2 separate regions of the Homo sapiens genome follow, and region 1 is linked to region 2. The links come from fine-mapping of genetic effects on gene expression. A gene starts in region 2. The other region holds a variant in brackets. All regions are shown on one strand. Distances are between the middles of the regions. Region 1 overlaps LINC03021 (long intergenic non-protein coding RNA 3021). Region 2 holds the start of ARHGEF10 (Rho guanine nucleotide exchange factor 10).

The links. PIP is the estimated chance that this variant, and not a neighbour inherited with it, causes the effect.
Region 1: its variant is the best candidate, but not a certain one, in a credible set for the expression of ARHGEF10 in aorta (GTEx, PIP 0.58).

What each region holds. Positions count from the first base shown.
Region 1 is chr8:2,566,010-2,571,389 of GRCh38, forward strand. All of the region lies in intron 5 of LINC03021 (long intergenic non-protein coding RNA 3021), which reads right to left. Among named protein-coding and RNA genes, the nearest start is that of LINC03021, 160 kb to the right of the region's middle. The variant T/C (reference allele first, on the strand shown) is at 2,682.
Region 2 is chr8:1,821,492-1,826,871 of GRCh38, forward strand. ARHGEF10 (Rho guanine nucleotide exchange factor 10) reads left to right here and starts at 2,435. Exons shown (of 29, transcript NM_014629.4): 1 at 2,435-2,622.

The DNA.
Region 1 (5,380 bases), 740 kb after region 2:
CACGTTTCAGGTGCTTTCCATCTATTAGGAGACTTCCTTTCCCTGGCATCAGCTGTGACCTCTTATGATTTTAGAGAGACAATTTAACAACCACCTGACCATTGCCTGATGGTCACCTGGCATTTCTGGTGGGGGTTGGGGAGCCCTCCTGCCTTGCTCACATCTGCCTAGCTAACTAACATTACCGACTTTAGAATAAAGGTCCACATCACTGGATTAATAAGGCACTGTTGTCTCTCATTGGATGTTGGCTGGCTGGTGGGATTTGCCTGCATACATACACAGAAGTAAAGAGCAGGGGAGAGAAAATATTCATAGAATCAACAATTTAGAAATGAAATTTTTGATGATTTTCTTCACCATTATAGGCAAATGGAAGCATTTCAAATTGTAAACTCTTTTTAGAATAATGAATAATTCTTTAAAATGAAATGTATCAATACTAGTAGGCTTTATTTGGGAACAACAAATCCACACCTTCAAATTCATTCTTAAATATTTCATGTAAGAAAGCTGTAGCACAGAGCAGTTCATCGACTTGCCAATGACCATAGCAGCTCACTGCTGGTGGAGCCGGGGCCAGGTTTGTGTCTCACTTTTTCAAACCAGTGTTCTCAAATGTCCAAACTCATTAGTTTCAAAGTTATCACATTTTTTTAAAATCTGAAAACAAGCTGATGGCTTAGAAGCTGATGTTGGGAAGGTGCTTCCAAGTGATACAAGTTTTGCATTTTCTCTTGTAGACACCTCTTGGGAATTCACTAAACGTGTCTGCTATGGTCTGAATATCTGTGTCACCTCCTCCCAGATTCATATGTTGAAATTATAAACCCCTAATGTGATAGTATTAGAAGGCGGAGCTTTGGTAGGTGATCAGGTCAACAGGGTGGAGGCCTCATGAGTGGGGATTGGGGCCCTTGTGAAAAAGGAAGGCTCCATCTGTGAACCAGGAAGCCAGTCCTCACAGGAGATTTATCTCTGGGTGACTTGGTCTTGGATTTCCAGATTCCAGAACTGTGAGAAATGAATATCTGCTGTTTGTAAATCCCCTGTAGCCTGGTATTCTGTGATAGCAGCATGAGCAGACTAGAAAAAAGTCCTGCCGGTCACATGGTGAAGCCTCAGCCTGATCACTTCTATCTCTTTTGGTTTTTTACTTCCTTGAGTGATTCCTGTATCTCATATCATGTGAAATATATTTCATCGTGTTTGAGATTTTAACAGGTCATTACAAAACTAATGATAAGGATAATCAAATTATTTTAATCCTATGAAATTAAAATCTCAAAAGAAGAGAAGAAAATGGAAATGAACCACCAAAATAGTAATAATCATAATGACCACAGTAACAGTAAGCCCCTTAATTTGTGTCTTGAACATGTTCTTGGTACCTCCCTGTGTTTACAACCAACCCTTTCACCAACCATGTGGGGCAGGTGCGTTATTCTCATTTCACAGGTGAGAGCACTGAGGCACACAGAGTTTGAATACATTGTTTAAGGTCACATATTTAGTTTATGTTACAACTAGGGTTTTTTTTTTTTTGTTTTCTTTTTTGAGACAAGTTCTCACTCTGTCACCCAGACTGGAGTGTAGTGGTGCAGTCTTGGCTCACTGCAGCCTTGACCTCCAGGGCTCTGGTGATTCTTCCATCGCAGCCTCTAAACAAGGCATTCTGACTCCAGAATCTGGTACACATACCTAAAAAAGTGAAACCTGGTACCTCATCTGAGAATAAGGCTGACTACATAAAACATCACGTGGCTACACTCCCAACCGAGGCATCAGTAGTACGCTTCGCCCACATAGACACACACTTTTTATTCCCACTGTGTGTTTATACCCTCAAACCCCTTTGCAGAAATGATTGAGTGCTTTCTATAGGGCTTCTTTTAGCCTAAATTGAGAGTAAAGGTTTAAAAAAACAGTTCAATATTTAAAAAAAAAAACAATTCAATGGACTGAGCACAGTGGCATACGTCTGTAATCCAGGCACTTTGGGAGGTAGGAGGGTCACTTGAGCTCAGGAGTTCGGGACCAGCTTGTTACAGCTTGATATGTAGCATTTCATCTCTACAAAACAATTTTTAAAAAATTAGCCAAGTATAGTGGCATGTGCCTGTACTTCCAGCTACTTGGAAGCTGAAAAAGGAGGATCTCTTGAGCCTGGGAGGTTGAGGTTGCCCTGAGCCATGATCATGCCACTGCACTGCAGCCTGGGTGACAGAGAGAGACTTTGCCTCAAAAAAGAAATAAATAAAATAAAAACAAAATAAAACCAGTTAAATGGACAAGAGAAGAAAAAATGGGGGAAAAAACCAATGAAAGATACCAATAATAGACATTTTATACAGATAGTATTTGAAAAGTTTTCTACATCTTAGATCCAATATGTTTTTTTTCCAATCATATGCTCTCTTCTTATAAATAATCTTGCAAAAAGGTAAAATAGTTATAGAATCATCATCAATTAGACGTGCAAATTAAATGTAGTTCCTCACAAAGGAAAAAAAACTCACCTTTTTGTTTCTTAAACTGGCACTTGCTAATTTAGAACTTTATTGTAAAATAAAATGCTTTCTACTTCCCTAAGGGGTTGGGATTCCTATATAGTTTCTGCATACAGGAAAGAACTTTAGATTTTACTTTGGGAAAACAAACTTTTTGAATTAATTTTCAAA[T/C]AGTCACTTATCCTATGATGAACTTCGTAGACATTTTCCCTGTAGTTTTTCAAAGTTGTTAAATAGATCGCACTGTACACAGCATATTATTACACACGTGGTACACCATGGTTGTCTATGGCATATGGAGCTGCGTGCAACCATGCAAAAAGCTGTCTGCAAAAGCGTTGGCTTGACTGGAAGACACAAGGAGGGTTATGGCTTCTCGTGACCTTGATCATTCACTTTAATTTTTACAGATTCAATTTTTGCACGTAGAAAATGGGCCAGTCATATCTGTCCTGATGTCTGGCAGTTAGTTATGATGCTCTTTATTATGATATATGGGGAAGAGTTATTAAATGAATAAACAATGCACTATTTGTTTTCATTATGGAATGCGTTAGAGTTTGATAGAAGCCATACTATTTTCATTTATCTGAACTTTTACTGCTTAGACTACAGGGGTAGGAGTCACATCTAGATCATGTTACTTCATTTACATCAGCAATTTGCAGGGACCACCTGCAGCAGGGACCCGCCATGGGCTCCGCTTTTGATTTACAGCTCAATGCACCTGGAGTTGATCATGGAGCCAACGAGTGCTGTTATGCTGTGACAAACCTTAGTGTTTTGCTTGCACCTCTTTTTTGACATGAGAACTATCCTACCATAGTACCTTGTTTGCACTTCTTCCAAAATACTAATAATAAACAGTTATCTGAAATAGCACCTGAAGACAAATGCTTCTAGAATGTGGGCTTTGGGGAGGCCATGTGGGTTTGTCAGGAGAGACAGAGAGCAAAGGCTGCGGGCGTGCCAGGCTGCTGCCGAGGGGCGCGAAGATGGTGGAGAACATGTCCCAGGCCTGTTTGTCCCACCTTTTGTATACAAGACACCTTGTATGTTTCCTTAACAAACTTGTGCATGCATCTTACATGCCCTACCAAACTAATTATTTTGAAGCCTACTGCAGCTTCATACCCTCCTTGTATCTTCCCCAAGGCTCAGCCTAGGGCTTTATACCAGGAAGCTACTTGTTAAGCCGTTTTGCTTTAAAATATTAATATCACTATTTCAGATGCAGCCACATTCATATTCAAAATTTCCTTTTACATTAAACAAATCCTACTGATCAGTAGATGGCAAGCTTGCTACATCTAAATACTGAGGTTTGGTTTTTCTGTTAGAAACTTCACTGACATTTTATTCCAAAATATTTAAAGCTTCTTTAAATTGATAGCATTCAGTTTGTTGTAAAACTGACCTGCTAATGCAATAGTTGATGCGTTCACTCACATCGAACTTCCAGCATTTAAGATACTGAATTAAATGAAAATGGAATTCCCAAGTCAAGTAAACAAATGATGCACTTTCAATTAATAAAGTAATTCAGAGTTTTAATTCTTATTAATTAAACTTCTATTTCCTCACAAAATATGCTCTAGCTACCCCATAATGGTTGCACCTGAAGAAACACGTCTGTTTGCCAGAAACAAAATAAAGAACTGCTGGTCACAGCTGCTCTGTTATGGTCCTCTGCTCATAGCACTGTTTCTGTTTTAATATAAGCTAACCAAGCAGGGAGAGAAAAGTACTATGTCAACCTCACCCACATGAAAGTGCCAAATAAGAATTCAGGAAAAGACAAGGGAAGTTAAGTTCTCAACAAACAAATCAATATGATTAAGAAAACTAACAGAGATGACTTGAGCCCAGGAATTTGAGTTCAAGACAAGCCTGGGCAACATGGTGAAATCCAGTCTCTACAAAAAACTATAGAAATTAGCTGGGTGTGGTGGTGAGTGCTTGTAGTCTCAGCTACTCAAGGATCTGAGGTGAGGTGGGAAGATCACCTGAGCCCCAGGGAGGTTGAGGCTGGAGTGAGCCATGATGACACCACTGCACTCCAGTCTGGGTGACAGAATGAGACCACCCAGAAAAAAAAGGAAAGAGAAAGAAAGAGAGAGAAAAAGAAAGAAAGAGAAAGAGAGAGAGAAAGAGAGAAAAAGAAAAGAAAAGAAAGAAAGAAAGAAAGAAAGAAAGAAAGAAAAAGAAAGGAAGAAGGAAAGAAAAGAAAGAAAGAAAGAATGGAAAGAGGGAGGGAAGGAGGGAGGAAATTAAGAGGCAAATTGAATTCATACTTTATTTATTTATTTATTGACAGTCTTGCTCTGTTGTCTAGGCTGGAGTATAGTGACTTGATCACTGTAGCCTCCACATCCCACGCTCAAGTGATTCTCCCACCTCCGCCTCTCAAGTAGCTGGGACTATGGGCACATACCACCATGCCCAACTATTTTTTTTGTTGTTATTTGTAGAGGTGGGGTCTCACTTTGTTGCCTAGGCTGGGCTCGAACTTCTGAGCTCAAGTGATACTCCCGCCTTGGCCTCACACAGTGCTGGGATCACAAGCATGAGCCACCATACCCAGCCTGGTATACACTTCAAATGACTTGATGAGAAATACATTTTATTTATGAGTTGTTTTCTATTTGATAAGGTTTTTGACAGATAATTTGATCTGAAAAGAAATCATGACTTTTCACGAATAATAAATAGTATTAATTTTCTACAAATACTTTTTTGGGCCTTTAAAACTCAACTTTATATGATAAAGTCTAGATTATAGTAGAACAAAGGTGATAATAATTTGTATATTGTCTTGTACAAGACAAGAAATCACAGCTAAAAGCTACATAAGTGGCCTGGGCAAGGTG
Region 2 (5,380 bases):
AAATGGTCGGTCCATTTTCTGTCTTACCTGAAGATCCGTAAGATCTTTTCTTATATTTTATCCTAGCAACTTTATAATTTTTACACTTAAGTCTATGATCCATCTGAAATTCCTAAATTCTATTTTAATCCTAATAGTTTATTTGTAGATAATTTTGTTTTTTAACATATATAATCATATTGACTGTAAATAATCAGTTTTTCCTCCCTCAATCCTTACACTTTTTGTTTTTATGACCTACAACACTTGTTAGATGCTGCAGGACAATGCTGAATAGACTACGGAGAGTCAAAGATTTTCATACACCCTTATCAGTACAAGTAGATAAAAAGTACAAGTAGATAAAAAGTACAAGTAGATAAAAAAATCAGTAACAAATATGACCTAATTGACATCTGTAGAACTTTATGTCAGTGAAAGCATGTTCTCAGCAAGTGCTCATAGAACATTTACCAAAATAGACAATGTTGGGCCATGAAGCAAGTGTTTGAAAATCTTAAACGACAAAAATAAAACAGCTGATGTTTTAAGGCCCGGTGGAATTAAACTTTAGTTACAATAAAAAGAAAACCAGAAAGTCCCCATATATTTGAAAGGTGAACCTAACTTTTCTAAATATCCCATGGGTCAAAGAGGGAATCACAATGGAAAATCCCAACTCTTCCATATCCGGGCTTACGAAAATAGGGATGTATCTGTGAGGAACGCCTGAATAAAGCAGACAGACAGGATCTATTGGAGCTCCAAATCAGGGGATTTTCTGCCCAACCTGCCTGGAAGGCATTGCTCTGTGGCCCTACTCAGTGGTGTCCCTGGCGGCCCTGAGTTTAGGGGCTCAATTTCATCCATTGAGAAAATGAGTTGTTTATTCCATACACAGGACTATTTCCTCTTATCTCTACCTTTTTAGAAAACACTACAAGTATCAGGATTTTCTCATCGTATTTAGGTAAACAAGAACTAATTTAGTTGACCTTCTTACTTCTGTTGATCAAGACCATTGATCTGACCATTGATCTGTGCAGAAGATCTCTGAATAAGGTACCCAGAGAACCCTAGGAATAGAAACCTGAAATAAGTTTTCTAATCTTAAGGTCGCTGAGAGCAAATACCTTTTTCAATTGATTCATAAAAACAACTCAGTCTGATTTCATAAAATTAGCAAGTGTGAATAATAAACATTGAAAAAATATCACCTTACCTACGATTATTTTTTCCAGCCATTGTAGTCTTTCTATGTTGGCTATGATTTTTACATAGTCCAAAATTTTCAGGGAAATAACTTATTCCAGAGCACACAAGCCTTAAGGGCAGTTAATGTTTAGATTAATTTCGTGATACTTAGCATCCCAAATAGCTGTTTGTATTTCTTCTATAAAACAAGTGAAAGGGGCTAGAAATCTCTAAGAAGTCTGACAGTTCTAAAACACTGACTTAAAATTACTTCTATGATTCGGAGATTTGGGTAGGAGAAGGCATAGAAATAAATCTAGCATCTGCGAACACACTTGTTAAATGTGCTGACCAGGTAAAAGATAACATCCTTTAGTTATTTTGGTTAAAAATGTCTTTGTTTCTCGTTTTTTTTTTTCTTTAATAGTAATTATAACGATAATCTGTTTCCTTTTTAAAAGTATAAGACAAATAAATGCTCAAAGTAAACAATTCCAATAACTCAGAAGGGGCCATTCCCTGGAAAGGTCCCGGGAAAAACGAGCGCTTCCTGGCAAGAAGCAAGCTTCAAAAACTGCCTCGGAAACGTGGCTGAAGTCATCGCATTTCCAAACGCCCAAGCCTTGGCTGGTCCAGGGCAGCTGGCGCGGAAGACCCGGAACGCCCTGTGGGCAGGGCCAGCTGCGGACGGAGGGACGGGGGCTCAAGGGCGGGTCGGGTGGGGTCCCGACGCCCCCTCCTCGGCTGGGCGCACCCCGGGTGTCCGCAGGGAGGGGCGATGTTCTGGGGGGGGGAGCGTCTGCCCGACGCCCCCTCCCTCAGGTGAGCTCAGCCCGTGGGGGTCCGCAGAAAGGGCGGTGCTCTGGGAGAGGGTTAGGGTCTGCCCGGCGCACCCTCCCCAAGGGGCGCAGCTCTGAGCCGGGAGCAGGCTCTGCGGGGAGGATCCAGATGTTGGGGGCGGGGAGGGCACTCGGTCTGCCCAGCGACCCCTCCCGAAGTGAGCGCGGCCCGGGGTCCGCGGGGCAGGAGATGATCCGGGGGCGGGAGCCTCTGCCGCGCGCCCCCTCCCACGCGTGCGCAGCCTGGGCCGGGCGTTGGGCAGCGGGAGGGGGCGCGGGCGGCCACGTGGCCTCGAAGGAATGCGCGGGCGCGAGGGCAGGGCGCTGCCGAGAAACCGGCAGGCTCTGCGGCCAATGGGCGCCCGGAACGGTCTGGGCCCGCCAATGACAGCATGGTGGGTGGAGCAGGCCGTCCGGGCGGGAGGGGCTGGGCGCATCCCTGTAGCCGGCGGGCGCGCGATCCGGGACGGACGGGGTCGCGGGGGACGCGGGGGACGCGGGGGACGGCGGGGAACGGCGGGGGACGGCGGGGAACAGCGGGGGACGGCGGGGAACAGCGGGGGACGGCGGGGAACAGCAGGGGACTGCGGGTCGCGTCCTGGCCGCCGAGGTGAGTGCGGGCCCCGCGGACCGTGGGTCCCCTCGCGGGCTTCTGGTTTCCTTTGAGAGTTGCACTTCTGCCCGGCTCCCCCGAAATCGCTGGGTCCCACCCGGAGGTGGCTGCGCCCCCGACCCCCTGCGCAGATGTTTCAGGGAAGGGGCTGAGACCCCCTCCCCCCGAGCAGCTCCCCCTTCCGCGGCGCCCCCGGCCCCTCAGGATAACGGCGCGGGCCTGGGCGGGGGGAGCAGGGACTGGCAGCAGGGACCCCTGGCCCCAGGGGCAGGAGCGAACTCCGATCGGCGGAAGGAGCCCGAGGGGCGAGCTGGCTTCGCCTGGGGGGTCGTGCAGTAACTTAGATTTTCCGGTAAAGGAGAAGAATGCGGTCCGCCTCAGGATGCAGAGAAGGACCGGTGTAAGGAAAGCCGGCGTCTTTCCCCCGCACCCTACCTGTCCCCCTACCCCACCAGTTCCCCGCACCCCGTGTACCCCGCCTGTCCCTCAGCACCCCCTGTTCACTCTGCACTCCACCAGTTCCCCGCACCCCAGCTGTCCCCCCGCACCCCACCTGTTTACCCTGCACCCCAGCTGTCCCCCGCGCCGCAGCTGTCCCCCCCACACCCCACCTATTCCCCCGCACCCCGCCTGTCCCCCCGCACCCTACCTGTTTATTCTGCACCCCACCTGTCCCCTCGCACCCCACCTGTTCCCCCTGCACCCCACCTGTCTTCCCCACACCCCACCTGTTTACTCTGCACCCCAGCTGTCCCCCCACACCCCACCAGTTCCCCGCACCCCGTGTACCCCGCCTGTCCCTCAGCACCCCATGTTAACTCTGCACTCCACCAGTTCCCCGCACCCCACCTGTCCCCTCGCACCCCACCTGTCCTCCCCACACCCCACCTGTTTACTCTGCACCCCAGCTGTCCCCCCACACCCCACCTGTTCACCCGCACTCCACCTGTCCCCCCGCACTCCACCTGTCCCCCCGCACCCCACCTGTCCCCCCTGCACCTCACCTGTCCCCCCGCACCCCACCTGTCCCCCCGCACCCCACCTGTCCCCCCGCACTCCACCTGTCCCCCCGCACCCCACCTGTCCCCCCGCACCCCACCTGTCCCCCCGCACCCCACCTGTCCCCCGCACCCCACCTGTTCACCTGCACCCCACCTGTCCCCCCGCACCCCACCTGTCTCCCCGTACCCCACCTGTTCCCCCGCACCCCACCTGTCCTCGCACCCCACCTCTCTCCCTGAACCCCACCTGTCCCCTGCACCTCAACTGTCCTGCACCCCACCTGTCCCCCTGATCCCCACCTGTCCTCTGCACCTCACCTGTCCCCCTACACCTCACCTGTTTACCCTGCACCCCAGCTGTCCCTCGCACCCCAGCTGTCCCCCCCGTACTCCACCTGTTCCCCTGCACCCCACAGCCCGCTGGTGCCCAAGAAGCCAAGGTAGATTCTGAGGAAACTGCCCTAGGTCCACAGACGCCCTGCCCACCTGTCCCAGCCCCACTCCCCTTCCATGGGCCCCTGGGCACTGAAGGTGAGGTCTGAGTACCCCTCCCGACTGTGGCCAGTAGGTCATGTTCCCAGGCAGCAGTAGACGAACTTGCTGTTGTCTGATATTGATTCCAGTCACTAACTTTGGCTGCAAGTAAAAATTCTCATTGACTCAAGATGTAACGGGTTTTAATTCTTTTCTCTGGTTAACCATAACCTGAGTACGGACTGGTCAGTATTCTAGATTCTGTGCAGGAGTGACTTAATGTCCATATGGGTGGAATGCTGCAAGGAGGAACAATTTCACTGTTGCTGATTAATAATATGTTTTGAACACCTGCTTTATAGAAAATAATTTTTATTCGAAAAGAGAGATGATTACTGAGGTTTACACGTCATGTATTTTTAAAAACACACTTTGTCCCTGTCTGTCTCTCACAGCATTTATTTGCTGGCTTTAGCAGCCAACATCGGCAGTTACGGATGCATAACTCTTTATAGACAGATGAGACCTCCAGGATTTCTCAGCAGTAAGAAAAGTCATTTGTATAAGGTGCTATTTGTAATTCATTAGTTGTAGACAGTTGGGGGTGAAGTGAAGTTAAAAGTTATTCAGAATAGCTTTTTATGTTTTTAAAAGTTGATGCTTGACTTCCAGATGTAACCACATTTGTCTTCTGGGTGCTTTGGTGTGCTGCCTTTCCTCTGCAGTTTGTGTGTGCATACGTGTGCGTGTGTCTTTGTGTATGTGTTTGTGTTTGTATGCATGTGTGTGCGTTTGTGTGTGCGTGTGTTTGTGTGTGTGCTGTGTGTGTGTGCGCTTTGTGTGTGTGTGTGTGCGCGTGTGTGAGTTGTAGATAGAGGCGTTGGGTGGTGTGGAGGGTGTGGAGTTACAGACCTGGGTTGAGGTGGGGAAGCTTTTCCCTGGCCCTGTGAGTCCAGACTTCTCACGGGACTTGAGGGTGCTCACTTACGAAGTTGCTAGAAGGCGTTGTATGGGGAAGTGCTGCTTAAAACAAAGATGTTTGGCATAAATTAGAGCAAACTGGAAATGCGCTAATGACGGTTGTATTCTGTAAGCGATGTGAAAACGTCATAGTGAGATGTAAGAAAGCGCTGTTGTAGGCCCGTCATTGTTTACTGCACAGTGTGTGGCAGGAAGCATGCAAAGAACAGCTCGGATCTGGAGATGCTCAGAGAATCTGTGTTTCATGCGTGCGTTGCTTATAGTTTGCCTGGGTAGAAAGGTAAGTGGCGTGAAATAAG